7 linked regions of the Homo sapiens genome follow. The protein of the gene in region 1 purifies or fractionates together with the protein of each later gene. This does not show direct contact. Each region holds a gene or a part of one and is shown on either strand. Other genes may lie near its edges.

What was found.
Region 2: the proteins of HDAC9 (region 1) and CAPG purify together in Homo sapiens (affinity purification with mass spectrometry; one large-scale study listed by BioGRID and IntAct). This does not show direct contact.
Region 3: the proteins of HDAC9 (region 1) and ANXA8 purify together in Homo sapiens (affinity purification with mass spectrometry; one large-scale study listed by BioGRID and IntAct). This does not show direct contact.
Region 4: the proteins of HDAC9 (region 1) and FIP1L1 purify together in Homo sapiens (affinity purification with mass spectrometry; one large-scale study listed by BioGRID and IntAct). This does not show direct contact.
Region 5: the proteins of HDAC9 (region 1) and TPR purify together in Homo sapiens (affinity purification with mass spectrometry; one large-scale study listed by BioGRID and IntAct). This does not show direct contact.
Region 6: the proteins of HDAC9 (region 1) and MKI67 purify together in Homo sapiens (affinity purification with mass spectrometry; one large-scale study listed by BioGRID and IntAct). This does not show direct contact.
Region 7: the proteins of HDAC9 (region 1) and NUP93 purify together in Homo sapiens (affinity purification with mass spectrometry; one large-scale study listed by BioGRID and IntAct). This does not show direct contact.

What each region holds. Positions count from the first base shown.
Region 1 is NC_000007.14:18,498,749-18,502,248, forward strand, and holds part of HDAC9 (histone deacetylase 9), read left to right. Parts: intron 1-3,500. UniProt on the Homo sapiens protein: Responsible for the deacetylation of lysine residues on the N-terminal part of the core histones (H2A, H2B, H3 and H4).
Region 2 is NC_000002.12:85,394,253-85,397,309, forward strand, and holds the end of CAPG (macrophage-capping protein), read right to left. Parts: intron 1,375-3,057; coding exon 1,286-1,374; intron 707-1,285; coding exon 641-706; 3' UTR 501-640; downstream 1-500. UniProt on the Homo sapiens protein: Calcium-sensitive protein which reversibly blocks the barbed ends of actin filaments but does not sever preformed actin filaments. May play an important role in macrophage function.
Region 3 is NC_000010.11:47,474,116-47,477,615, forward strand, and holds part of ANXA8 (annexin A8), read right to left. Parts: exon of another isoform or gene 3,128-3,500; intron 3,080-3,127; coding exon 2,966-3,079; exon of another isoform or gene 2,965-2,965; intron 2,208-2,964; coding exon 2,117-2,207; intron 1,989-2,116; coding exon of another isoform or gene 1,951-1,988; exon of another isoform or gene 1,476-1,950; intron 1,458-1,475; coding exon 1,378-1,457; intron 890-1,377; coding exon 830-889; intron 284-829; coding exon 190-283; intron 1-189. UniProt on the Homo sapiens protein: This protein is an anticoagulant protein that acts as an indirect inhibitor of the thromboplastin-specific complex, which is involved in the blood coagulation cascade.
Region 4 is NC_000004.12:53,380,641-53,384,140, reverse strand, and holds part of FIP1L1 (pre-mRNA 3'-end-processing factor FIP1), read right to left. Parts: intron 1,864-3,500; coding exon 1,806-1,863; intron 369-1,805; coding exon 265-368; intron 1-264.
Region 5 is NC_000001.11:186,313,703-186,316,253, forward strand, and holds part of TPR (nucleoprotein TPR), read right to left. Parts: intron 1,023-2,551; coding exon 927-1,022; intron 866-926; exon of another isoform or gene 325-865; coding exon 269-324; 3' UTR 77-268; coding exon of another isoform or gene 1-76. Other genes in the region: PRG4 (proteoglycan 4 isoform A preproprotein), read left to right, coding at 1-76.
Region 6 is NC_000010.11:128,116,424-128,119,923, reverse strand, and holds part of MKI67 (proliferation marker protein Ki-67), read left to right. Parts: intron 1-604; coding exon 605-671; intron 672-3,387; coding exon 3,388-3,433; intron 3,434-3,500. UniProt on the Homo sapiens protein: Protein that associates with the surface of mitotic chromosomes and acts both as a chromosome repellent during early mitosis and chromosome attractant during late mitosis.
Region 7 is NC_000016.10:56,733,129-56,736,628, reverse strand, and holds part of NUP93 (nuclear pore complex protein Nup93), read right to left. Parts: intron 1-3,500. UniProt on the Homo sapiens protein: Plays a role in the nuclear pore complex (NPC) assembly and/or maintenance. May anchor nucleoporins, but not NUP153 and TPR, to the NPC. During renal development, regulates podocyte migration and proliferation through SMAD4 signaling.

The sequences.
Region 1 (3,500 bases):
AAACTGAAGAATAATGATGTCCTCCTGCTTGCCTCTTAGCATTCTTGTGAGGTTCAGATGTATCAATATGTCTTTAAAACGTATACTCACTATTAGAATTGTTGTTTTTAGTGAATGAACCTAAGATCTTGGTTTTCAATGCCATGTTCTATCTTGCTGAACAAGCCACATGAGTTACATTGTAGGTCACATGGGGGAAATGATTGTTTGTTTTGATAATCAGTTTGCCTTAGTTATCTTATAAATCAACTATTTATTTTGTTACCTTGGTTTGATAAGAGTTGAGATCTTTCCTATGCAGACTATCACTATAGGTAAGAGTAGGGTGTGTATGTGTGTGTGTGTGTGTGTGTGTTCTCTGAAATGTCTCATTATGTAATAAAGGCAAAGAAGTTGCACAGTATGTGATTGAACAGTGAACCCCAATCGCAGATTTCATGAGATTATTTTTAAAACATTGGTTATGTTGTGTAATTTCTTTAGCAATTGCATTAGAGTTCCCATTTGTTGTTCTAGTTATATTGGATATTATGCACTAATATTGATGGTTTTTGTACAGAGCTCTTTATATACTATTGGAATACAAGTTTTTTTTATGGTTGTATGTTTTTTTGATATTGACTCGGCCAGGCTAAACATGTTTGGTAGAACCAGGTTCTATAATATTGTACTAATATATTTTAGTTTAAAGTTCTATAATATTAAATCTTAGAATTCAGTGTGAGTGACACATTTTGTCAAGTACATCCCTACTTTTGTGGCTTGTGTGGGCCAGGGTAAGTGATAACTGTGGCAGAAAGTGAAGCATGTACAAATATTGACTCAGGTCACTCTGCAGGAGCTGGCAGGATTAGGGGTGTTCTCCCATTGCCAAGCATGTTGCTTAACACGTTGGGCAGCAGAGCTGTCCAGACAATATTGGAACAATTATTATGAAGGAATTTCCTAGAGTTTGTACAGAAGTAATGTAAGATATATTTACAATAAGGAAAGCTCATATTTTGGCCATCTATTCTTACTTTAGGGTATAAAAGAAAAACATTTAAATCAAAGTCCTGAAATTCTTTTATATATCTTCACCCTTTTTTGAATCCTTTTGTTCCTTAGTGTATGGTGTTGAGGGGAAGGGAACATTTTAGATTCAGTAGTCACGTCACTTATGTCTACTTGAAAAGCAGAATCTAATTATGAAAATGTAAGTCTGTGAAATGTTCCTGTCATGTCAAGAATCACTTCTGGTATTCCCCATAATTACTGTTTTGCCATTCTCTAACTCAGGTTATCTTCACTTGCAAGTCTGTTATCAATTGAGATAGATGATAGGTATCAATCAGAAATATAATTATAAATGGGCTCATTGAGAATGGAGACAAGAATGAGTATTTCATATTTCTAAGGATGACACAGGAGGCATAATTATTGTTATGTCCGTTAAGTAAGAAAATCCAATAAAACCCCTTGGAAGACTGAAATAAATCCAAATTCTGAATTCAAAAAATATTCTAAATGATGATTTTAATTTTGGAGATGAGCAATTTTAAAATGTGCCTCATAATTTCTCACTACTGATAAATAATGAAGTGAGCCCAAAATAGCATGTCAGCCAGCAAACATACCTTCCATCCCTGTCACCCAATATATTCAACAGTAACTGAGCAAAGAAAATGATATAACCTAATGCAACATACCTCAGAGGCTAACAGCCAAGGCAAAAATGGATGCAGAGGTTCTTTGATCATAACAGAGAGACCTGTCTCCTGGGCTGTCTTAGAATTTTACTGGCAAGTTGACCAGTTCCTGAGGATTCTCACTAAGATTCCCAAATCTGAAGAGAAGAAAACTGAGTAGGTATCCTCACCATTTTGGGTTGTTCTTGTTTTCTCTTGTGGCTGAGAAATAGTAGAAATGAAGGCTTCAGAGCAGCGTACTAAATTGGGAGAAAGATCGATCCATAGCTCTTTGGAATGACGTACCTTTCACCAACTAAACTTAGAGATTCTGCCAAGAAGAAAAACATCAACTCATTGAACCCATGGAATTAGACGTCTTAGTATTGCTTCCTACAAATAGAGCACCTTACATAAATTTTATATTAAAAAAAGCTGAAAGGTGAGATGATAAACAAGAGAATGAGATGAGAAAGGAGATATAGATCTCAGGAAATGAATCAAGAATGGAAAATCATAATGATTATAGAAAAAAATATTCATTAGAAATAGAAGAAAACAGAATAGGCCCAGGTAAAAATCTTTACACATAAAGATGAAAGGTTTGAAAAAAATCAGAGTAAATGAAAAAGGAAAACAGTTAGACAAAGTAGAAATTCTCAAACATGAAAGAGGCTGCTTGACAGTGAAAGCCACACAGTGAAGAGATGAACTTAAAACAAACAAAAAACTAAATTCAGAAGTAGAGAAAACATTATCAAAGTAACGAGGGAACACTGAATGCATTTAAACAACTATTGGATTGTGTTTATAGGGCAGAAAACAGATATTATAAAGTAGGGGAATGTAAAAATATTAATAAAGCTGGCCAGTGTGAGGTGTTAGAGAGAGGTGAGATGGAAGGATGTGAGAAATGCTAATATCCTTCCCTTTCTGAGCAGGGACAGACTCCCTGCTGCTTAAAATAGAAACACATACTTAAAAAAAAGATTCAAAGCACTGATTTTTAAAAATAGTTTATTTAACCTTAAAGAGGTCTTTTTGGAAATAGTATCTCTTACGTTAAGGAAGTATTTAGTACATTTATAGTTCCTTCAACTGCAGTTTTAAATCTGCTTAATTCAGTTAAGTTTAAATTTAAATTCAGTTAAGTTTAATTTCAGTTTTTAAAAATAAATATAACATCAGTGATATGTTCTTATTTTTATAATTTTTTAAATCTATCCATCCATCTCCTGAAGAATTCATATAAAGATAGGAAGAAATAAGGAAAGATGCTGTGCTGTGTTTGGTGAAGAGGAGGGGCTTTTTCTTTCAGCATCATACCTCTTTACAGTGTATGATTTTTTATAATAGGCATGTATTCTATGAGAAGTGTTCATTACACACCCCCACACAAAGCTACCATGTCAAAATACTAACAGTGATTAATTGTAAGTAGTAGGTATATTAGTTAGGTTGTTTTCTCCTGCAGATAAAAGAACACTCTAGTCAAAATGACAGACAAGTAGGACATTTATCATGTGATAAAGTAGTTGGGTGGTTAGGCAGCACCAGGTAGTCAAAAATGGCAGCAGCATTCAGGTCCTTCATATAGCTCCACTCTGCTGGTCTTAGCCTTGGTTGGTGTGATCCTAAGATTGGATCCTCCAATGGTCACAAACTGACTTGTAGCAGTTCCAAGCATTATGTATGTTTATGCATAACAAATTGCAGAGACAAAGGTTGGATCCTCCAATGGTCACAAGTTGACTCGTAGCAGTTTCAAGCATCATGTTATTTATGCACGACAAACTCCAGAGACAAAGAGGGGAAACTGCTGTCTTGGCGTCT
Region 2 (3,057 bases), on another chromosome or scaffold:
AGACTGAAGACTGTCCATGCTAGCCTGGTGCTTTTCGCACAGCCCTGCAGTGGCCCTGGGCTCACCAGCCAAACATGCTGGGCAATGTGCCTACGAAGTAATAAGCCAGGCTTGGTACAATTGTGAAAGGCTGTCCTCTCTTGCTCAGTGGGCATATGTCACTTGAAGCTGCCTGGCAGTGCTTTATTAGGGCATCCGAAGAAATACTGCCTTAAATGGAACTGCATCCCAAGCCCATTGCCACAACCTTCTCCCTGTTGGGAATGTGAGACTGAACTGAACACCCGGATGCAACTGATCCTGAGGCCTGGCACTGTGCCACCTCCCTATTGGGTTCATGGCAGTCCCTGCAAGCCTGGCTGGGACTCCTCTGTCATGCAAAGCAGCTCTGGCCCCTCCAAGGCTGTCCAATTGTCATCTGTGTGCTACTCCACCCCCAGCATGGGGATGAACCCAGGTGAATAGGTGGGTGACAGTGAGAATCAGCCCAGGGCAGGTGGTGCAGGAAAAGAGCTGGGAAAGCACTTGTCTCCTTTATTGAACATCTGCAGGGGGCACCTCTGCACTGACCAGGCAGCCAGAGAAGCAAGCAGGCAGGTGGTGGGGGGCAGGGGAGCATGGGGCAGGAAGACGCCCACCCTCATTTCCAGTCCTTGAAAAATTGCTTGAAGATGGGACTCTCATGGCCCTGAGGCAGAATCTCCACCTGCAGGGACAGCGGGGGAGAAGTCTGGTTCACAAAGTTGCCACCTCTGCCTCTGCCCAGGAGGACAGGAGGGGGCCAGAGCCAGGGAGGAGGGTGTGGGCGCCTGGCCTGAATCCATGTGCAGTCCAGGCTGGGAAAGCTCCCCTGGATGAGCCATGAGATGAGAACCAAGATTTCAGGGACACAGACAGAGGCAACAGACTGCTTCAAGGGCGTGGGTGCACAGTTTAATAAATGCCACCAACGGTAGCTGAGCCCTGTCAGCTCCCCACGGGATGACTTGTGGACACTGTGCTGCGGCAGGAGGGGTGGCACCAGCCAGGGACAACGGCCCAGAGGAGGAGTACCCAGTTCTCTGGGCACCCAGGAGAGTGCTGCCCAACATCCTCTTTGAAAATAATAAGTATTTTGACATTTTGAAGGATTGAGATGGGCTTTCCCACTGGATGGGTCTAAGAGGGAGGCCTGGTTGTTCCTGACAGTGCCCAAGGCTCTCCTGCCCTTCCTGGCCAATTTGAGGGGTCAGGGGCCACAGGAAGAGCCCTAGGAAGAGGGCTGTGGTTGTGCGCATCTCCTCACCTGAGTGTTCGGGGCGTACTGCATGCGCGAGATGAAGCCCTCGGCCACCTGCAGGGCTGCCTGCCGCTCCTTCTCATTCGCTTTTCGCCCTAGATCATAGGAAGGAGATTTTTAAAAAGAGCAGGGACCCTCTTTAGCTGCCATCCCATTTTTCTTGAGGAAATTTAAGGGAGTCCACAGAAGAGCCAGCAATTTTTACAATAAATGGACCAGGGGTCCCAAGAATGCCGAGGGGCTCTTTGGAGATGTGGAGTCAGTCCCTTAAGAATTTTCCCAAACCGGCAGCACCAAGGTAGATGAAAACCCCTCGTCTGCCCGGGTCTGATCATGCAAAACTCTGCTCTGACCTGGGCCCCTGGAATATTTCAGGGAGGGGAACAGGTGTTCACCCTAGCATCAGACTGTGAGGCCGCAGGTCTCCTTTTCCTCTAGGACCCCTCACCTCTTGAATTCATCAAGCCTTTTCTGAAAAACTAAATAAGACAAAGGGTACAATTTATTATAGAGGTGATTTACTCCCATAATGCCAGCAGGGCTACACTGGCCTAACAGTTATGCTAACTAAGCACTTACAAAAATGAAGACCCCACGTAATCCAGTCATTTCTGCTAGCAGTCCTGAGAACTCAAACTGCTCATTCCAGGCTTTTTTATTTTTATTTTTTCTGAGACGCAGTCTCGTTCTGTCGCCCGGGCTGGAGTGCAGCGGCACCAACACGGCTCACTACAGCCTCAACCTCCCAGGCTCAAGCAATCTGCCCACCTCAGCCTCTCGTGTAGCTGGGACCACAGGTGCACGCCACCACACTCAGCTAATTTTGGGGGGTTTTTTTTTTGTAGAGAAGTGATATTTCGCCATGTTGCCCAGGCTGCCAGACATTTTTCCAAGGAAATGATACCGAAACGATGCCGTGATGTGGTTGGCTCTCTAGGCAGGCTATAAAATGCCATGAACTACAATGTATCTGAAATTAATATGCTGGATTCCTTCCTCTGTCAACTGACCAGCTGCCCCCCTACCCATGAGATCCTTCTCTTCCTGGCCTCCCAAGTTTCCTGTTTTTCCTCTGATTTCTCTTTCCATAGTTGTTGGGTTCCTTGCTCCGGTTTATACATGCTTCTGTGGGCCTCTGTGAACCCCCCTCTGCTTGGCATTGGTTCCATGGGATATGTGCCCTCTGGCAGGAGAGAAAAGGCAGCCCTGCAGCACACGCCTCTCGCTTTCCACTCTTTTGCTGCTCCCAGCTCCTCCCTTTCACTTCTATCCCTGCTGAGTTTCAGAAGCAATACTATGAAATGCCTGGTAGCAGCTATCTGTAGATACCCACCTACTTGTCTGCCTTCCTGACCAGGCTAGGGGCTGGCATTTTCTCCACCTTGGTTGACCCCACAACTGGGTGTTGAGCAAATGCTATTGCTGAAAATTCTCAGACCCCAGGCAGAGACTGAGAACAAGTTTGTTTCATTTTCAGTCAAACCAAGCAGAACAGGCTCTGCCCAACAGTGTTTCTATTTCCAGAAGATAGAATCTTTTGGAAAAACAAGTTCTACAGGTTCACCACTCACTGCATAAAATGATGTTTAATTTGTCTAAAATTCATTTCTGTCAAACCTTGAGACAGAATCCCAGGATCAGGGGTCCCAGAAGCCCCAAAGGTCTAGAGCTGGGCTAGGGCAGTGGTTCTCAAAGTGTGATCCCTGGAACCAGCAGCACAGACATAACCCATAACCTTGTTAGAGATGCATGTTCTGCCCCACTCCAGACCTAGTGAA
Region 3 (3,500 bases), on another chromosome or scaffold:
CTCAGTGTCTCGGATCAGAGATCGCACATCAATTTGCCGCCCTGACCTCCCACTGGTGGCTGGGGAAACAGTCCTGGGCTCCCTGGCTCTCTCCCTAACTCTAGACTTGACAAGGCAGAAGCACGAGGGAGAGGCTCATGGCCAGGACACCCCCTGTGGCCCCGGCCCCAGCCCCTCCCTCCCTGGTACCTCTCAGCAGGTGAGTGGCACTGCGCGTGCACAGGATGGTGATGAATTTCATCTCATCAGTCCCACGAATCTTCTCGCCTGCCGCATACAGATCCTAGCATTGGGACACCCACAATAAGCCAGTGAGGGAGACCAGGGAGGTGAGGGACTGAGCCCCAGAGTCCCAGAGCTGTGGCCATGGCCTGGCCCTGTCCACTCTGCCAGGCCAGCATGCTCCCCTGCTTGGTCGTCTCTGACAGGGAGCTCCCCTTTCTCTAGCAGCTCTGGCTTAGAATATTTTCTCTATCCTGGGCCACAAGCTGCTCTAGGAACTGCCTGGTCCCCAGACTTCCCTCTGCCAGCAGGCAGACCTACAGAGACCCGGACACCTGTGTCCAGCACTGGGGCCTAGCGCCCCCGGGTTCATGGGCTGTTCCTGCCAGGACAGAGCTTTAGTGCTCCCCCACCCCCAAGTCACACTCCTTCCTCCCGAGTCTCCCAACACCCTCACTCTCCTCCCCAGACACCACAGGACAAAGGCCTATAGGGAGCTGAGCTGGGTGGGTCCCAGCCCAGTGTCAGAGAAAGCCCCCGTGGGCAGAGGAGCCGGAGTCCAGATGGCAGGGGGTGGGGCCACATGGCCGGCTGGGCGCAGCCTCACCTGTGCGTCTTGGAGGGCCAGTCCTGGGTCCACAAAGCTGCTCACATCATCCCTGCTGCCCTAGGAACAGAGGAGGTGGCTCTGTAAGGCAGGCCAGCTGACCAGAGCATTAAGGGCACAGGGGGGATCCTGGGCTTGGAGGGCAGGCATGGCTCTGCTGCTCTTTGGCTGTGGAAACTTCGACAAGCCAGTTATTCTCTTCAGCCCTTGGTTTCCTCATTTGTACAATGGGGGTGGTAAGGACTGCCTCATAAGGCTTGGCGGATTCAGTGAGCTAAGGTAAGCAAAGTGCCTGGCATGAGGCCTGCACGAAGGACCTGCTCTCCTCCCGCTTCCAGGATGCTCTCACATGGCTGAGTAAGGACAGGTGTGGGGGCTCTGCAGTTGGGACCCTCTAACCATGCTGAGACACACCCAATGAGCCCTGGCTGCTGGGCTATCCCATGCCCCTACCCTGACTCTTGTGGCGCTATTCAAGGGCTGCTCCCTGGGGTGGAGCTGTTGGGACTCCCAAACCAAGGCACTCCCAAGAGCCTAGGCTGTGACACCTGCAGGAGGCACACCAGGATCCTCTCCAGGTAGCCACTTGTGTCTGCTTGGATGTCCTCCTCCAGGCTGGACCCATAGTCTGCAGGGAAACAGGACCATGAGGCACAAGCAGAGGCCCACAGCCTACCCGGGGCCTGCTTTCCTCCTTCCAGCCCTGTTCCCCATACTTCTCCTTATTAAAGCCTTCTAGGAAAGAAAGTCCTTGGCACAGGGCATGGATGCAATGCCCGGGTGTCCAAGTGGCTGTCGCCTGGGTGGTGCTTCACAACTAGAAGCGACATGCGTACCCAACCAAGCTCAAAGCACAAGATGGACCAGGTCAGAGAGCCAGGCTAGGGGCTGCCAACCAAGCTCCATTTCATCTCAAGGCTTGGCAAAGCCAAAGCCTCCAGGAAAACTCCCCACTAGGTACATGATGTGGAGGACTGACTGGCCTCTGCTAGCCTGGGGTCCACACCCCCTACTACCACAGTCCTCAAGGGCAGAGATTTTAGTTGGTCACAGGCCTCTCTCCCCTGTAAGAGGAGCTGGTGAGCTTACAGATCAAGTCTGAATCATGTTCAGTGTCACCATCAGGCACAGATCTTGGCATACGGTAGGTGCTCAGCACCTGTGGGTAAAAAAGTCCCCAAAGGGTCCTTTCTAGTGTGGCCCAGGTTAATTCTTGATCCTTGTTCCCTGCCAGGCTGCCAAAGCTTGTGGCCACTCCTGAGCCCCTCCATCTGTGCCACCCCTTACCTTCCTCATACGCCTTCATTATCTCCCGCAGCTGGTTCTTGGTCCGAGAGGCCAGGATCTCAATGATGACACCCTCCTTGGTTCCTAAGCCCTGTGGACAGAAACCTCTGCCTGCTGGAGTGCTCTGCCATGACCTTCTGCTCTGTCCACACCTTCTTTTCTCAAGATGCCTGAGCCTCAGGAAGGACCTCACTGCCCTGCCCCACTTGAAGTGGGAGGATGTGATGAGAAAATCACATGCTTCAGTGATGAACATTGAGGGCAAGTGCTGTGACGGGGAAGCCCTGTCTCAGCTCTCCCTCCTTAGCTGGGTGGTCTCAGACAGGCTGCTCCATGTCCTGGAGCCTAAGCATCCCGATCCATAAACAGGAATAAGAAGCCTCCCCTGCGCCAAAGATAGATTAGGGAGCGTGGGTGTAAAATGCCTGGCAGTGCCCATGCAGCAAGTGTCTTTCCAAACAAAATGACTATAGTTACTGGGTCCCCATCCTTATTAATCTGCAAAAGCAAAGAGTAGTGAGAGGTAAAGGGAAACCCAAGGGGCTGTGCCTGGGACTGTAGAGGTGGGTTTCCAATACCACTGTACACCTGAGCTCGTGAGGTTCTGAGAAGTACTGATTTTGGCTTCATCACGGCCACTCAACGTGTCAATCAGGCACCAGTGACTCCAGGTGTTGGGTGCAGTCTGAGCAGCAGGCTGCCTGCTCACTGGGCCCAGTTATGGCCCATATGGCCATTCCAAACAGTGGCTCAAGGGGAGCTCTGGGCTGTAGGTTCCCGGTCCCCGCATTGCCCCTACCCAGTCATGTGAGCACCCCTGCCACTCCCCTGCCCTGTCTGCCTGGTTACCTTCATGGCGTCATGCAGCTCCTTGGCTTCGTATCTGTATGGCGGGTACATAAGGGCCACAATGAGCCTCTCAAACTTGCCACTGAGCTCAGACTTCAAGGTCTCAGTGAGGTCCTAATGCGGGAACAGGGAAAGGTGATATTTGTCATAAGCCAGGCCCACCTGAGTGCAGGCAGCGGAGTGGTGGCTGGGTCCAGGGGCTTGGGCTGGATTCTGCGTGGGCCTTGCCACGTGCTGGCTGGGTTTCTTGGGCCAGCTCCTTAGCTTCTCTTAGCATCAGTATCTTTACCGGTTACACGGAGAGAAACGTGCTCCTGCTTCATCCCGTTGCTTAGGGGGTTGTGTGTGACTCAATTCAGCATTCAGTGCAGTGCTGGGCACATCATAAGCTCTCAGTAAAATGAAATTGGTATTGCTAGCTAGACTGCAAGCTCTGAGTATGGCATCACCATAAAATACCTGTCACTTGGCACTCAATGAATGAATGCATGCCTGAATTAAAGACTTCGTCTCACATGTGCCTCCTTCTAAGGTC
Region 4 (3,500 bases), on another chromosome or scaffold:
CTCTATGCCTGGCCTAGCACTCAATTCTTTTATAAAAACACTTTAAATTCAGCATCAAAAACTGCTGCTTCTATGTACCTTCGCCTAATCAATTAACTGTATTTTAGCAAAGAAGTATATTCATGATGAAACTTTAACAAGTTCTTTTATGTTAAAATAGAAAAATGTAAAAACAATGGACTCAACCACTGAGAGTTTGATATAGGCACACTCTCCTTACTATATAGCATTTACACAATTGTTACTTACTAAAAAATAACTTACCCATACTGTGGTGCTCCCGTTTTAATGTCTCCTATAGTGACATGAACATCATCTTCATCATCATCGCTGTCACTATCACTATCATCTTCGGTCTCAGTCACTTTCTACATGAACATAAACAAATTATAAAATACATTCAGTAATCCATTTCAACATCTAATACTAATAACTAAAAAAAGTAACCACCCTGTTTTTTTTTTTCTTTCTTCTGTCTTGAGACAGACTCTCACTTTGTCGCCCCGGCTTGAGTGCAGTGGCATGATCTCAGCTCACTGCAACCTCCACCTCCCAGGTTCAAGCAATTCTCCGGCCTCAGCCTCTAGAGTAGCTAGGATTACAGGTGCCCGCCACCATGCCCAACTAATTTTTGTATTTTTAGCAGAGACAGGGTTTCACCATGTTGGCCAGGCTGGCCTCGAACTCCTGACCTCAGGTGATCCACCCACCTTGGCCTCCCAAAGTGCTGGAATTACAGGCGTGAGCCACCATGCCCGGCCCCACTCTGTATTTTTTTGAGATACAATTTAAAAGTTACAAGCTTATAATGCTGCCACCTATTTCAACTCATAATTTTGATGTTCTACAGGATAAAAAGGATAAGACTATGAATAAAGAAATGAAATCTTTTTGGCATCATCTCCTTGTGGTAAACAACACCTCATTTTTTTTTTAACTATCATATCTGCCCCTCTTGCAAAAAGATCTAAAGCAACTTACTAAGATACCTACAAGATAAAATTATAAAAAATAAGTATTTGAGAAGTCTTGGCAAAAAAGAATCTAAGAGGAAAACAATTTTAAGATTCACAGTGTCACAAATACAATGTACCAAATCAATTAAAGAATTAAAAAAAAAAACCCCAAAGCATAAGAAGTACCAAATAGTTAAGTAGAAGCTCAGTTATTCTTGGTATTCTTGTATACCTAGAAGAGGCCCTACATGCAAATTCTATATTTGTGAAGATTTTACTTTGGCTCTTAAAGGCTATTTTGTGCTTAATCACATCATAGTAAATAAGTAGATCACATAGGCAAAATACTTTTTTGTATACAACTTCAAACTTCCGGAACAATAACTTCCTTCCTTTTATAGGATTAAAATGCACAAATATTCATAGGACCAATGATATGTTCACCTCACAAAGTATCAATGGCATGCAGGCATGCAGTCAGGGACTGTCACATACATTAAAAAGCAACGTTAAAAAATCGTAACAGTGAAAGGTTGTGGGCTCAAAACTTGCTCTGAAAACCAGGCTCACTATATTCAGTAGATTTATAACCATTCAATTCCTTGAAAGCAATAAACATCAAGCCTTTGCACATACTATTTTCCTCTGCAGTCTTTCTACTATTTCTTTTCCTCATTTTAATTCCTATATATGTTTTTGATGGCACCAGATGAAGTAGGAGATGTAAGAAAGGGCCAGATAACACCTGATACTGAAGGTAATGTAAAATGCCAGCTTGCTTTCTATGTAAACTGTGAAGCTATTGATAAAGATTTGTATCAGTAACTGGATTTCAAAGCCTTATGTTACCGGTTTTGGTACACCATTTTCAGCAGTTTCATCTTCAATTCCAGATGGAGGATTAGCACTACAAACAACAAAAGTAAGTATACATGTCAGGCATTACTTTTCGGAAGTACAGATAGATTATATTAGTATTTCTAAGCTTTAATAAAGCTCCTAAAATTATTGTCTCCACTGGAGACAGTAATGGTAAAATCTGACTGTCTTATTCCGTTATTTCTAGTAACTTGCAGAAGACAAGTACTCAACATTGTAAGTAGAATGCAAATGCCAGGCTGGGCGTGGAGGCTCATGCCTGTAATCCCAGCACTTTGAGAGGCTGAGGTGGGTGGATCACGAGGTCAGGAATTCAAGACCAGCCTGGCCAAGATGGTAAAACCCCGTCTCTACTAAAAATACAAAAAAAAAAAAATTAGCCAGGCATGGTGGCGGGCACCTGTAATCCCAGCTACTCGGAAGGCTGAAGCAGACAATTGCTTGAACCCAGGAGATAGAGGTTGCAGTGAGGCTGCAGTGATCATGCCACTGCACTCTAGCCTGGGCGACAGCGTGAGATGCTGTCTCAAAAAAAAAAAAAAAAAAAAAAAAGAATGCAAATGCCTTCACAGTTTATTAATGATTTATAATTTGATGGTGGGCTATAATTCAAGCTTTTTACACATTTTAAAAATATATGACAAACTTAATCAATTTTAATTATCCTAAATCAATTTGATCTTTACAGTGGCATTTTATAGCACAATCACCAAATAAAGCAAAATGAAAGATAAAAAGTCAAAACATAACTGTTATATTTTCATTGTTCTACTGCTTGCTTCAAGAAAACAAATATGCAGCTATAATTGTTCAGTACATTTACCTCCTGCTGAAATAAGCTTCTAGGTAGCCAGAAGCAAGTCCCATTTGCTTTCTACGTCACAAAACAGTATCCCTTCTTTAGTCAAAACTTGGATAGATATAACACAATTGGAGACTGCAATGCAATGTTTAAGAAAAACAGAGGCTTCAGCAATGAGCCAGTCAGTAGGAAACGGGCAAATTCTAATAGCAGGAACTTTGGTAGAGCAATGCAATGATGTACCAAGCCAGATAGCAGTAGGTCTGGCAGAGTACCTTTCTTCAATAGGCCTACTCTTTTGGAAGTTTTAATTTTCTATCACCATTAAAATGTTAGAAACATGATAAAATTTTAAGCTTTTTCTAGAAAAATAACACTGTAAAGGAAATTGTTTTTTCCCCCATAGGATGAAATCAACTCAACGGCTCCCCAAATGAAGTTGCAGAAAGGAATATAAAGCTATGTTGACAGTGACACTCAGGGAAGGTAGAAGGTTCCCTCCAATAAATTTTAGCAAGTTGTGTATTGCGGAATTAAAATTAAAGAATGTTTGATTAGAAAGTAAGCTTTTAAAATTGTAACCAATAAAAATAAAAATTAATGGGATAAAGATTATCATATAGAAAAGTATATTTGATTGTAAAACTATACCTGTAATTAATTTCTTGACCAACTGAAGGAATGGGTACAAAGAAATATTCAATCACTTTCATAACATAAACTAAAACTAATCTCAACTTTGTGGTTGAGATCAGAATTAGGAACTGAGTTGAATATATAAATTTTAAAATGAAATAACATTTCAGATAATATACCAATGAGTGAAAAGACTATAGGGGATTTTTTGGGTAAGGAAGCTGAAC
Region 5 (2,551 bases), on another chromosome or scaffold:
GCCTAGTAGAACAGCAAGAGCAATTACTACTCGTTCTGGGCAGACCTTATCCAAAGTCTGGTACAACTGTCCTTAGACTGATGAGCAAAGGAGGAGTCAACTAATGAAGAAATGAATAATAAATTTTGACACTGAAAAACATTTTATTAATAAAGAATATTGACATGAGTATACCAGTTTATATATAAAAATGTTTTTAAACTTGACAATCATTACACTAAAACAGATTTGATAATCTTATTCACAGTTGTTATTGTTTACAGACCATTTAATTAATATTTCCTCTGTTTATTCCTCCTCTCCCTCCCATTGCATGGCTCACACCTGTAAAAGAAAAAAGAATCAAATTGAATATATCTTTTAAGAATTCAAAACTAGTGTATTCACTTACCCTAGTTCATTATAAAAAATATCTAGGCATTGTGGATATAAAACTGTTGGGTATTCTACAACTTCAATGGAAATTATTACAAGCAGATTAATCCCTCTTTTTGTGACACAAGTACAATCTAAAAGTTATATTGGAAAACATGGAAATATTAAAATTTTACACTTTTACTAGCTAAAACATAATCACAAAGCTTTATCGTGTTGTATAAAAAAATTAACAATATAATGGCAATAGGTAGAGATACAACAAATGAATATAACACTATAACACTTCATATTTTCCAAATCTTAATTTGGATTTAAGGAAGAAATCAATAAATATAAAATATAAGCACATATTTATTATATATCTAAGGTATACAAATCTGTCTACATGAAGTTTACAGATTGGTAAATATCACCTGCTCAACATGTAATTATTTAATAAAACTTTGGAACATTAAAAAAATAAATTGGAGGCTTAAGGATTAGAAAACTTGTTCCATTTATTACTATTCCACATTCTATCATGTAATCCAGTTATGTCAGAAATTCACCTCTCTGTCTGTTAAACTGACGACCACGGACACCTTGTCTCAATGTTGTCTGAAGTCTTACTCGTCTGAAAGGCTTTGGTTGACTACTACTAGTATCTAAGAAAAACATTAAGATAAAAGAAAAGCAAGTGAAAAAATGAGAAAGCATTTATAATGATACAAACTAATTACTAAATGAATGAATGAATAAGATGTAGACTTGTTCATTTGATTTCAATTCTTTTTTTCAAACAATGAGGAACATTTAACAAACCGAAAAAGGGTAAATGGTTAAACAACAAAAAAAGCAGCACTTTGGGAGGCTAAGGTGGGAGGATCACTTGAGCTCAGGAGTTCGAGACCAGCCTGGGCAACACAGCGAGACCCTGTTTCTACAAAATTATAAAACAATTAGCTGGGCATGGTGGAACATGCCTACAGTCCCAGTTACTCAGGAGGCTGAGGCTAGAGGATCACTTGAGCCCGGGTGAGGTTGAGGCTGCAGTGAGCCATGATCAAGCTAACAGTACTCCAGGGAGACCGGTGAGATCCTGCCTTAAAAAACACCCAAAAAACCAGGCAGACCAAGGCCCTGTCTCAAAAAAAAAACAAACAAACAAACAAAAAAAAAACACCAAAAAAAAACCAGAAGTGCTTGACTTTTTTTCATTCATTCACTTATATTAATAAATATTTACTTGTTGACTACCCATGTATCAAACATACTGCCAGGTGCTGAGAAATACAACAGAAAACAAAATATCAAGTCCCTCAGCAAACAGCCTACAACAGAACACAAATTATATCTGATTCTTTTTCAGACACCCCAAATGCAATCATTAGCAAATCATGAATGCTCAAATTTAAATATATATCCCAAATCTGACAACTTCTCACAATCCTAACTCTACCATCTCACCTAAGCCATTACTATCTTTTCCTGACTTACTGCAGTAGCCTCCAAAGTTTCTCGTTTCTGTCCATTATTCATTTTTAATCTCTTCTGTATGCAGCAGCCAAACTGATCAGATCATGTCATGTCATTATTCTGTGTGAAGCCCTCCAATAGCTTCTGGTATCCATGACAGCCAAGGCAATTACAATGATCTACTCGATCTATCCTCTCCCGCCTCTTAACATATCTCCTGCTACTCTCTGTTCTCACTCACTGTGCTCCAGCCACAGTGGCCTCCTTGTTGACCCTGAACACAAGCAGACACACTGCTGCCTTATGGACTTGGCATCTATTAATATTCTCTTTGATCTAGTATGCTCTTCATTAAGTAACTGCACAGCTTTGATCCCTTTCTTCTTTCAGCTCTTAAATGTCACCTTCTCTTAGTGATGCTTCCTATGAAACTGCCTGCTACACTGTCAAATATTTGTTGACCAAATGAATACTCAGATGGGGGAAGTACAGTTTTACATTATCAAATAAATTTAAAGACATCGTAATTTCATATTATACTTTAAAGGAAACAACCATATTTTCTCATACAAGCTCTGATAAGATATAACAAGTGCTAATTCTATTGAGGAAAGCCAATTTTTATGGGACGTCAAAATATAACTGGGGGCACAAAACTTCAGTAATCATTAATATGATTGTTATACATTTTTTAAGCCTTACTGCGTATGAAATGGTT
Region 6 (3,500 bases), on another chromosome or scaffold:
CACTGAGGTTTGCCAGGACAATTATGTATCTTGCTAAAGGTGATCTTCTTAAGATGTACCTGTCTTGTTCAGATACAGACTGAATGTGTGGGAAACTGAAGTGATCATAGTGTTCTAAAATATAGGTTTGTAGTTACCCTGTAGTGTAAGTGTAGCTTTTTATTTACCCTGAAGTATGTAACTTCACAACGTGAGAAAGATTCAGTTACCTACAGGCTTCCTGGCTGGCCTTCCAAGCCATCCGATGATTTCCATGGACTTAAACTAGAAGAAACTTGACTTTGCTCTCATGTGCATTAGCTTATGTCATAGAAGGTGCTTGGTAATATTGTCAAATCATACCTGGGCTGTTCGTCAGTGATCAGAAGTTAATCTGGGTCCCCAGCCTCTGACAGTGGTATTTCAAAACAAACTCGATGCAACTAATCCTAGTTTTTAGTGTAAAAGCACTTTTCTAACTCTAAATTTATTTCTTTGTATAAGGTGATGTCTTGAACTAAACCCAAAGTTTGTTCGTTGATCCTTGGACATTAAGTGGATATGGAGACTTCCGCCCCAGGGTATAAATTTTTAATCAGGATCTTTGTCGTTCTATAAACTGCAGGTATGAAAATGAAAGTCTTCAGAATGGAAGGAAGTCAACTGAATTTCCAAGAAAAATACGTGAACAGGTGATAGAAAATATCCAAGTTTGGGCTGATTCGTTTCGATGATATGAAATCATTTATGTATGCTTTAATGATTTCTTACTTGAAATCAGTTACAAAGAGGGTGGTTACTGTTATAGTAGGAAAATGTAACTAAAGTATAAAAACGAGTTGAACTTAGACGTATTAAAATAATCTAAAATGATATTTCCTCTTTATTGTTCAAAATCAGAGCACTAAGTTGGTCTTACACTTTTAGCCAAAAAGTCTATTAGAGCATGTTGCGAGCTTTTTGCAAACCCATGATTAGGATAACCCCAACACGTAGAGCTAACATTTGGGAATTGCATTATCTGGTGGCTCATTTTGTCGCCCAGTCATTGTACTCATCCGTCTTTATGTGTCTGAAATAATCACATTATGAAAATCATGAGTGCCAAAGATGCTTCTCTATTTTGATAGATAGACGACCCATGAAACAGGAAAAGGGATCCTGTGCTTTGTCTTGTGAGAGAATCCTATAGTTTGAGTGTATCAGTGTGGAACAGGTATTCCAATTGTACAGCTTATGAAAACATAATTGTCGACACGTGCTTCGCAATTTAGATAGTTTGAGTATATCAGTGTGGAAGAGGTATTTTAGTTGTACAGCTTATTAAAACACAGTTGTCGGCATGTGCTTGGAAATTTAGTGGGATTTAGGCTTAGGATGAGCCCTGAGAATTCATATTTTTCCTACATTTTAGAGTGCTCCTAAAGCTAGTTTCAGATGAGCTCCTTGGAATATCTTGGCTTAGGAGAGTTATCTTAGGTGCACCTGAAATTAGCAGTAGGTACTCTTGAATTTCAACATTTCTGCCTTTTTTTTTTTTTTTTTTTCTGAGACGGAGTCTCACTCCGTCACCCAGGCTGGAGTGCAGTGGTGCGATCTTGGCTCACTGCAACCTCCGCCTCCTGGGTTCAAGCAATTCTCCTGCCTCAGCCTCCCGAGTAGCTGGGACTACAGGTGCACACCACCATGCCTGGCTAATTTTTGTATTTTTAGTAGAGACAGGGTTTCACCATATTGACCAGGCTGGTCTTGAACTCCTAACCTCGTGATCCACCCACCTGGGCCTCCCAAAGTGCTGGGATTACAGGCTTGAGCCACCATGCCCAGTCCATTTCTGCCATTTAAGTACTGCCTTCTTCCCTAGAGGAGCAGCCTTAATGTTGAATCTGATGGTCATCAGTTCCCGTGCTGGAAGCCAGTTTCTGAGGCATCCCACACTGTAGCCACCAGGCAACTTGCTAGTCTATGGGAGTAAATAAACCAAAAAGCCAGTTGAACTGTGGGTTAGATATGTGCCACTCAGCAGTCTAGGAACTGTTTGTTCTGTTACTGGTCTGTGATATAGTGAGTACTGAAATGGAGTATGTAGTAAATATGACAGCAATTCGACAGCAATTTTGTGGCTATTGAATGTAATCGTACAACAAAAGTGAGATTATATACTTTACATATTCATAATTTTATTAGTGGTTCATTTATATTGTTTAGTCATAAGATTCTTGTTCCACTTCAGATTGGAAATAAAAAACCATCCCTCACATAGATAGTTTTAGAAGCAAGGTGTTACGTATCAAGAAACCTAAAATTGATTAAGGAAGTTAGATTCTTTGCCTTTGTTAATATTTTTTAGATATTTTCTTAATAATCCAGATGATAAGCTTTTCTTCCTTTGGGGCATCAGACTTTTATAAAAGTTATATATATATGTTATTCTTTAGTTCTTCCACCCTTCCGGAAATAATTCCATATGAAGGAAAGTTAGGGCGCTGTCTCTGGGGAGCCAGGTGGGGGCGCTGCGCCTGCTCCCAGGCTGTGAGGTTGCAGAATCTGTGAATATACCATGTGTGCCTGTACCATGAATTTACCTAGGGTGAATCTAGGCTCTCAGATCCACCCTAAGTATCCACCAGCCAAGAGGGCGCACATGCCAAGTGGAGCCTCAGTTCATCGACAGGTCCTATGGCCCATTTATGAGAAAACTGATGACGCAGTCAGTAGTTCTGAGCTCGTGGGGGGTTACAGATCTTCAGTATAGGTGATGTTTAATATTGACTTTGGTTCTTCCGCAATAGGATGTTGGGAAATATCTTTAAAGGAAGTTATAAAAACACACCGAGGTTTGATTTTAGTAATTTTAAGCCTCGAATTTGTTTCCTATTAATCACTCACTATTTTTTAATGAGTCAGCTAATAAGTACTTTTATCCTGACCACTAGCTCCCAACTGACTTGAGCTCATTTCTCAAACAGTCTTTAAAAGTCATATACGAGTGGTTTGGTAAAGAAAACAATTTTTTATTGTTTTTATTTTTATTTTTTGAGACAGAGTCTCGCTTTATTGCCCAGGCTAGAGTGCAGTGGTGCAATCTCTGCTCACTGCAACCTCTGCCTCCCGGGTTCCAGCAATTCTCCTGCCTCGGCCACCTGAGTAGCTGGGACTACAGGCACCTGCCACCACATCCAGCTAATGTTTGTATTTGCAGTAGAGATGAGGTTACATCATGTTGGCCAGGCTGTTCTCAAACTCCTGACCTCAAGTGATCCGCCCACCTTGGCCTCCCAAAGTGCTGGGATTACAGGCATGAGCCATCATGCCCAGCCAGAAAACAATAAATAATATTTTCACTGTTGTGACTGTCATCATTTAGAAAGACCTGCAAATAACTGTTCTTATTTTCCCAACTTACAGGAGCCAGCACGTCGTGTCTCAAGATCTAGCTTCTCTTCTGACCCTGGTGAGTAGTGGTTGGGTTTTGTTCCAGAATCCTGAAAGATCAGGTCTTTGCGAAGCATATTGGCAAA
Region 7 (3,500 bases), on another chromosome or scaffold:
TCCTCCGCCTCTGCCCCTGGCTTCTGTCTCCCAGGTTCTAACTCACCCTGTTCCTTTGCATCTCTGTGTTACCTCAGATTGTTTACTTACAGGTGTCCCTCCACTCTCAGACTCAGAAACCAAACACATGTAGATACATTTTTCCATAGCAAGCAGGCAGGTATTCCTCATTATCCAAACTATTGCTACTCTCTAACTAAAACTCAGGAAACGAAATACTACAGACTCAGATAACATGATATTCCTCACTCTCCAAACTCTCATTACCGAAACAGATTATTTATTTATTTATTTTTGAGATGGAATCTCGCTTTGTTGCCCAGGCTGGAGTGCAATAGCGTGATCTCAGCTCACTGCAACCTCCACCTCCCGGTTTCAAGCAATTCTCCTGCTGACTCAGTCTCCTGGGTAGCTGGGATTACAGGCACGTGCCATCACGCCAGGGTAATTTTTGTATTTTTAGTAGAGATGGTGTTTCACCATGTTGGCTAGGCTGGTCTTGAACTCCTGACCTCAGGTGATCTGCCTGCCTCAGCCTCCCAAAGTGCTGGCCTTACAGGCGTGAGCCACTGCACCCAGCTCCTAAACAGATTTAAATAGCATGGGGTATTTATATTTTTGCAACATCCTCTAACTATTGCTTTCATCCCCATCACTACCACCTAAGGCCAGACCTTCATTCCTTTAAGTCTAAGTCCTTCTTACATGCTAGAACATGGGCTTCCTCCTCCTAGCCCTGCCCCCAACTCTATGCACCCTACTCTCTGTGGCCACCTCTAGCTTCCTTTTTTTTTTTTTTTGAGACGGAGTTTCACTTTTGTCCCCCAGGCTGGAGTGCAATGATGAGATCTCAGCTCACTGCAACTTCCACCTCCCAGGTTCAAGCGATTCTCCTGCCTCAGCCTCCCGAGTAACTGGGATAACAGGCACGCACCACCATGCCCAGCTAATTTTTGGGGTTTCACCATGTTTGCCACGCTGGTCTCGAACTCCTGACCTCAAGTGATCCGCTCGCCTTGGCCTCCCAAAGTGCTAGGAATACAGGCGAGGGCCACTGCGCCCGACCCCATCTCTCTTTCTGACACGGCTGTTGCCCCTGCTCAAAAAACCTCACTGGCTCCCATTCACAGGGATCCATCCAGGTGAGTCACTGCTTTTAACTTTCTACCTCCCAGAATAAACCTTGTGTACCAGTCACTTGATTTACTTGGTCCCTGACTATCCTTGCACATGTCCTGCTCTGTGCCATTTTTCCCAAAAAGAAACACCTACCCAACCTTCCACTGCAGCCCTGAGCTCCAGCCAGCTCCTTCACTCTTTAGCTCGATGACTTTGGGCAAATTAATTACTCTCTCTGGGCCTCATCTGTGAAATGGAAAAATAACTGCATCTCCCTCACCTGTCACAAAGTAACCACTCAATAAACATTAGCTATCATTATTACCACCAACTCAAGTCCTACCTACCAAATGGTCTTCCTCAATACACATTACCTACAGAAAGTTTCCCTCATCTAAATTCCTTTTACTCCATTCATTTATTTGCCCGACATCATCTCCTGAGCTCTGTCTGTGTATGAGTCCCCACTATGGGCTTTATTTGTATAATCTAATGTCATCCTCACAGCAGACCTCTGGTGTCCAAAGGGACCAACTGGTACACAGGTTTTTCAGCAGGGCAACAGCCGTGTCAGAAAGATAGAGATGGGCACAGACAGTAGGGTGCATGGAGTGGGAGGGGTTAGGGGGAGGAAGGCCGTATTCTAGCATCTAACAAAGACTTGGACCTTCCCCATCTTCCTCATTTCAGTAAATAGTATCTTCATGCTAGAAGTTGCTCAGGTCTAAAACCGTGGCATTGTCCTTGACTTCTTTTCTCCTCTTATACCCTACATTAGCAATTCATTTCTACACTACATTTATTCATATATACATGAGTCAGACCCACTTTTTGTCTCTTCTACCACTATCATCCTGGTGCAAGCCACTCTCATGTGTCACATCTGGGTGATATAGTAGCTTCCTGTCTCCCTGTTCTTACTTTGTCCCCTCCCACTTCCCAGTCTGTTCTCCACACCACACTGGGAAGGATCCTCTAAAGGGGCTCAAACCTTCAATAGCCCCCGTCACTCACAGGCTGAGATCCAAAGTCCTTACCCTGTGCTGTGAGGCCTACATGACTGTCCCCGACCCAACTCCTTCTGTTACCACTCTTCCCCAGGATTATGTACTTTGGTCCTATGGCCTTCCACTCTTCTTCAAATATGCTAAATACACTGCTGACTTGGGCTTTCAGTCACTGTTTCCTCTGCATCTGCAGGAATATTCTCCTCCAAAATACCTACCTAGCTAACCCCCTTAATTCCTTCAAATCTCTGCTCAAAGGTTTCCTTTTTAAAGAAGCTTCTCAGCACACCCCAGCTAAAGCAGCCCCACCGTCCACTCTACCACATTTCTGTTTTACCTCGTTGGTAGTATGTTATCAATTTCTGGCATCACATGCCTACCTGTTTGTTCATTTATTGTCTGTCTCCTAACAGGCTCCTTGAGTCTGGGAACCTTGTCTGGTCTGTCCACAGCCCCATTCCCAGTACACTGAACAACAGCACCTAATGCTCAATAAATATGTGTTAAATGAATGAAGGAAGGAAGAGAAGACTATAACTTTGGTGTACCTAACAGATCAATGTAGGAATTTTTGGCAAGGTTTGAGAAAGTTTCTTCTGGCTTTTAGCAACTGTGTATGGGGGATCTAGCTGTTTGAGGACACAGTTGAAGCTATAAAAAAGTATAAAGCTATAAAATATTTCAAACGTTATGTTATTCAGGGGAGAAGAGATGGAGGTATTAACAGACATTAATACAAGGCAAATAAGTGAGCTAGGAGGACTCTAATCTATCAAAACAAAGGGGATTCTCATATCTCTATGTCCAGCCCAACTCTTTTCCCAAGCCAGTATTTCCAACTGTCCACCTAATACCTACACCTGGATGACTCATGGGTGCCTCAAACTACACATGTCCCAAATCAGACTCATCACTTCTCTCTCCTTAGCCACTGCCACCACCAATGCTTCCTTCTCGTGGGTTCCCAGTCTCTTTTCGTAAAACAATTAGCACACAGTCAGGTAAGCCAGGAACCACCTTCAAGTCACCCCAGCGCCCCTTTCACCTCCTCAACACTCAGCCAATCTCAAGCTCTACTTCTCAAACCTTTTGCAAAGTCATACCCTCATCTCTCGCCCCTTCTCTGACTTGCACGCCGACTAAGCCTTCTTGTTCCTCCAATCAACCTCCCCATGGTCAGGGAGGTCTTTCTGAAATGCTTTCCTGCCTTAAGTCCATCAGGGACACCTTCCATCCCCTACAGAATAAGATGCTCATGTTTTGACAGAGCTATAAAGGGTGCTCTCCATAGAACAGACACTGCCACCCTTACTATCCTCATCCCTCGCTGCCTTCCCCCAATTATATACCCTAGCAATTCTCTATTCTTTGGGG